Regions from separate parts of the Homo sapiens genome. Here region 1 is linked to region 2. The links come from fine-mapping of genetic effects on gene expression. A gene starts in region 2. The other region holds a variant in brackets. All regions are shown on one strand. Distances are between the middles of the regions. Region 1 overlaps MCF2L2 (MCF.2 cell line derived transforming sequence-like 2). Region 2 holds the start of B3GNT5 (UDP-GlcNAc:betaGal beta-1,3-N-acetylglucosaminyltransferase 5).

Evidence for each region.
Region 1: its variant is fine-mapped to the expression of B3GNT5 in whole blood (TOPMed, PIP above 0.99).

What each region holds. Positions count from the first base shown.
Region 1 is chr3:183,209,668-183,212,458 of GRCh38, forward strand. All of the region lies in intron 22 of MCF2L2 (MCF.2 cell line derived transforming sequence-like 2), which reads right to left. Among named protein-coding and RNA genes, the nearest start is that of B3GNT5, 42 kb to the right of the region's middle. The variant G/A (reference allele first, on the strand shown) is at 1,321.
Region 2 is chr3:183,251,992-183,254,782 of GRCh38, forward strand. B3GNT5 (UDP-GlcNAc:betaGal beta-1,3-N-acetylglucosaminyltransferase 5) reads left to right here and starts at 1,262. Exons shown (of 2, transcript NM_032047.5): 1 at 1,262-1,481. All of the region lies in intron 15 of MCF2L2 (MCF.2 cell line derived transforming sequence-like 2), which reads right to left. It overlaps LOC124906310 (a long non-coding RNA gene), which reads left to right. Exons shown (of 3, transcript XR_007096189.1): 3 at 544-564.

The DNA.
Region 1 (2,791 bases), 42 kb before region 2:
TAGTAGAGCCAGGGTTTCAGCATGTTGGCCAGGCTGGTCTCGAACTCCTGACCTCTGGTGATCTGCCCACCTCAGCCTCCCAAAGTGCTGGGATTACAGGCATAAGCCACTGCTCCCGGCCTTCATGCACTAAATTATTTAAAATATGTAAAATTACCTTCAGTCTATGTGTATAAGGTGTCATGAAACATAAATGAATTTCGTGTTTACACTTGGGTTCCATCTGCAACATAACTCAGTACGTATGCAAATACTCCAATCCTCCCCTAAAAAAAAAAAAACTCCAAAACACTTTTGGCCTCAAGCATTTTGGCTAAGGGATATTCAAACTTGTAGTTTCTATCTTACAATGTATTCACTCTCTACCTCATTTTAAACATTCGACGCATCTTACAGAAATATATACAGTATAGACAGATAGAAAATAACCGAGGGAATTAAGGTGAAGAAAAAATAAAGAAGTTGGGAGCTTGGCGCCTGCCTGTAGTCGCAACTACTTGGGAGGCTGAGGCAGGAGGATCACTTGAGTCCAGGAGTTTGAGGCCAGCCTGGGCAACATAGGGAGATCACCATCCCTAAATATAAAGACAATAAATCAGATGAACTGTTCCAGAAGGTGTAGAAGATAAAAGAAAAGATGAAGAGGTTATATGTAAAATGCATATAATAAAGCCATTTAAACTTGATGTAAACTTGGCTCTGACTTTCTAATAGCAATACAGAGGGAAACATGGTGAGTGGTACGATTTATTATGTCTGAAGACATACACAAACCGGTTGTTCAGGAAAAGCACAGCTATTCCTACTAAGACATAAGAAACATTTCTCCCAGTGATATGTTGTCACTGAGCAACATCCTCAACCACGCCCTATGATAGAAAGAGGAACATGTTTTAGGTAAAGCTGCTTGTAAGAACACATTTGGTCAGTGTGGAGGCTCAGCTGTCAAAGTAATTCTAGAAGAGGCTAGGATGATAGGGGAAGGGGGAATAAGTCGAGGTGTACACTCTCTAATGACTTGTGAAGATGGGGTGACGTGAGTTAAGGCATCCACAAGGCTATTGTAGAGGAAACAGCCCCAACCAGAAATGCTGAAGAGGCAGCCTCAGGCAGCAAGGTTTGTGCTTTATTACCTCTGAACTTTCCTCATCACCCCATCCACAGCCATGCTGCTGCACCTTCATAGGCAAGTAATCAGAGGATGTGAATCCAGAGAGGTACCAGCAGCTGACCATAGGGCCCCCAGCATAAAAACAATGTGCCAGGGTTGGGGGTTGGCAATGTGATCTCTCCCTGAACTGAAGAAAACAGGAGGAAGTG[G/A]TGACCAGCAGGAGACGGGGCTGTGAGATGCTTTAGGGGAAAGCAGGCAGTGGAATAAACGAGAAGGAAACAGAACTATGAAGAAGGTGAGTCATTAGAAATTATGAGGAAGAGGAAGAAACTGACGGAAGGGAAAAAAACAGTCAGTAGGTGGTAAGAGGGGGGGCGAGCAGGCATGTGGGTGCACTTGACATATACAGGCGGGTCACACAGGTAAGAACCCCGGCTCCCTCCCCAGGCCCAGGCCCCAGAGGTGCTGTGGATCCTGGGTTTGCTCAGTTCCCATCTCCGCGAACTTGGCTTTGCCATCGTGACTTCTTGAGAAGCTGCAGGTCAGCTTTCCAGTAAGCCCATTATTACTGGAAGTGACTCGGGGGGAGTCGCTGGGTCTTTCAAGTCTGGCAGAAACATATGGGCACATATCCTCTGGGTCATGTTGCACAAATGTTCTCAGGACCACACATATGACGGTATTGCCCATCTCCACGCCCAAGGTCCGATCTCCAGCGGGTGAGCACATGCCCTACACGGTGCTGACCAAGGGCAGGCACACACACTGTTCACTGTGCTGTGTGGAGCTGCTCCGCCTCCAACAGGAAGCTGCAGGGACATTCCCTGAGCAGGAGCAAGAATGACCTTTTCCGTCACGTGTACCTTTTCTTTCCAACTAGACTGTAGTTGATCTCAAGGTCGGAGACCACGTTGCACAACCTCTTTCAGATACGTGTTCACCAGTATTTATTTATTTATTGGCATTCCCTAGTATTTATTTATTTATTGGCATTTAGTGGTGCTTGGGAGTAGGGGACAGGAAACAAAATACTCATCACTGTGAGGGAATATTGATTTATCCAAGGAGTTCATTCAGCGACGCCCCTGTACTGGGTTGAATAGTGTTCCCCCAAAAACTCATGTCTATGAGACCCTCAAAATATGATCTTATTCGGAAAGAGGGTCTTTGCAGATACAATTGGTTAAGATGGGGTTGCCCTGGGTTAGGATGGGTCCAAATCCAATGACTGGTATCCTTATAAAAAAAGAAAACAAAGAAATGGAGACGCACGCTGAGGGAACAGCCATGCAAAGGCAGAGGCAGAAATTGGAGTGGCACAGCTGTCAGCCAAGGAACTCCAAGAATTGCCGGCAGTCACCAGAAGCTCAGACGAGGTAAGGAAGGATTCTTCCTGAGAGCCCTCAGAGGGAACGTGGGCCTGCTCTCACCTTGCCTTTGGACGTCTAGCCGTCAAAACTGTGAGGGAATAAATTTCTGTTGTTTTAAGTCACGTACTTTGTGGTTCCTTGCGACATCAGCCCTAGGAAACGAATATACTTCCAACTGTTTTCCACCAGTAACAAAGAAGTGTGGCCATGTCACACGGTGTGTGGAAGAACCTGATGGTTGTGAACTCAGAGATGGAACATAGCGGCTACCTCAAATGAGCGAGCGATAAGTTAGATGGCCTCCTCTGTA
Region 2 (2,791 bases):
TGTTTATCTGTATCTAGTATGATGTGAATATGTGATTTGTATGTGTGTCTACCACTGTTTTGGTCAGTTTGTATTTCTCGTGGGTACAGTTCTATGTGCTCATGTATGTGGAACATATGTATACTGACACATGGACCTAGCTCCAAATGATCTGAAAGGAATATAATTGTAATTGAATATTTGCACAGATATACAACATACACATGTGATGGCTGGGGGAAATGCATGTGGGATTTCAGTCAGCATTTTATTAGAGAAGGTATGTCATTAGTGCTGTATTAACAATGAATCAGCTTATTTGTGGGTCACTGTCAATGACTCCTTTGCAAATCACACATGTAAATATTTCTGTCTGTGGTCTGATGAACATGCAGTGCCACAGTCTGGGAGATGCTGAGCCATGCCCTGTGTAGGCAGCATATGAAAAGAACTGCATGATTTAAAAGATGCTGACCAGCTTAAGGAAAGCAATTTAAAAACTTCCTAAAAATCTAGTTTGAATGAACAACAGTTTTCATTTTGTGTGTGTGTTTTTTCTTTTAGAGATGGGGTCTTGCTATGTTGGCCACGCTGGTCTCTAACTCCTGGGATCAAGCAATCCTCCTGCGGCTCAGCCTCCCAAAGTGATGGGATTACAGGTGTGAGCCACCGTGTCTGCTGGCCCCACTGTTTTAAACCCTGATTCGACAATCATACATTTAACTCATTACCTGTCTTGTTCCTTTTACGACAAACTCAAAGCTTTTATTTTACTAAAGTATTTGGGTTAATCTTTTGCTTTTCTGTCATGTTCTGAAATATGTACAATAACAGAATCGCTCAAAATATTATCTCCGTTAAATGTTTTGTGGCTTTAGGGAGAGGTCTAACAACATGCGGGAAACAAGAAATCAAGCGCATCCAGGATTCATTTATAATCTCTCTCGTTGAGTAGAAGTCCGCATCTCTCGATATTGTCTGGTTACCTGCATGAAGTATTCTAAAGGAGGAAAATAGCTCAAAGAGGACATTCATGTGCACTCTGGCTTCCAGTTGGCCATTTGAGTAAGTGATCGCAATTAACTGACGAGCGGCAGGGAAACACTTCCTGGAATTCTCATCTACAGACAAGAACAAACTGGGGCGGGGCCCATCACCTTCACCTACGCGCCGGGAGGGTGGCGGCTGGCGGGCGGGGCCGGGCTCGGGCCGTGACGCCGAGAGTGCGGGGCGCGCGGCTGGGAGCCTCGCGCCCCCGCCCGGGCCCGCCCCCATCCCGCCCGCATACAGCCCGCATCCCGCCGGGGAAGCGAGCCCAGTCCAGCGCTGCCCGTCCAGTCCTCGCCCAAGATTTAAAGCCCGCAAGTTTTGTTCTTGAGACCAGCGACTTTAGCTCCGATGCGGGAAGGAAAGCCGACCTCCGATTTGGACATTTAAAGAGCTGGGCTTGAACTTCGTGAGTTTCGCTCTAAACTGCCCTTGAAATGAAGCTGGACTTGGAGGTAAAGTCACTGGGAAGCTGGCCTGGGGCGGGGTTTCCCCCTCTTCTCGTATTTTAGAAACGGACAGCGGCAGTGCAGCCCTAGTTTGCTGTAAGTTTCCTTACTTTGTTACTGAGGCCCCCAGAGCTCCACGCATAAGTGGTGTGACCAGAAACCTTTTAACAAGACCCGCCTGAGCCTGCGTTAGAGCTCCCGCTCGGAAAGTAAAAGACCATCCTAATCCGCGGCGCTGCGGAACCGGTGTCCCGTGTGGGAGGAACCGCGGCGTTCCCTGGGCGTAGGGCCCGCGAGGCCAGCACAGTCCGCCTCTTGGCGGAGCGCCCTGGGCCGGTGGTTCCGCGCGGAGTTAGTCTGTGGTCAGTTACGTGGTGAAAACACGGCTGTGCCGCGGCCGCATCTTTCCGCGGCCGAGGCCTCTCTGGGTGGGAGTGTTGGCTTCCTTTCCGGATCGCTAAATGGGGAAAGTTCTGGCCGCTCGGCGGGATACGTCTCCAGGCCACGGATGGTTCGTTCTCCGTGCCGCGGCCCCGAGCTGGGCTCCCTGGGTCTCCAGCGCGGGCTCCCGGCATTGGGGGCTGCGGGCCGGCCCCTCCGCCCCGCCCCCGCCCCGCCGCGCCTCCTCGGCCGAGCGGCTCGCGGTCTCCGGCGCGGGAGGCTCCGAGTCTGCCCACTCCGGGCCGAGCGAGGTCTCTGGAGGAGAAGAGTGGCGAGGAGGTGAGGGCACGCCGGCCCTCGCCCGGCGGGTGGCGCCAGGACTTCAGGTGGGAACGCGCGCTTGGGCCGGGGGCGCGTGGCTGGCGTGGACACCGGATCGGGGCCCGCCGCCCTGGCCCGGACCGCGCACGGCCCAGCGCCGGGAAGTCGGGAAGCCGGGGAGGCCTCTCCCACCGCGGGCCCCGGCAGCCCGCCCTCTGAAAGCGCGGCGGAGAAGGAGGCTCGTCCCCTCCCCGGAACGCCTTTGTTCCCTCCGGCCTGCCCGCGCGGGTGGCCAGCGGCTGGGACCCAGGCCGGGCCGCCGCCCAGGTGCGGCAGGTAGGCTCGGGGGCCGGGCAGCTCCGGTTGGGGCGGCTTCCCGGGGCCTGCGGGTCCCCGTCCCTGAGGAGCTCCGGCTCCTCGGTGGCGGGACAGGCCCGTGCGCGGGAGCCGCGAGGCGAACGCCGCGCCCACCAATTCGGTTGCCGGCCGGGGGCCCCAGGCTTGCGGCCACCCGCCTCCGGCTGGAGGGCTGAATTCGAGTCGAAAGCCCGTGTCGGGCTGGAAAGAAGAAACCGCCAACCTGAGAACGCTTTCGGCGAGTTACTGGCGGGGGA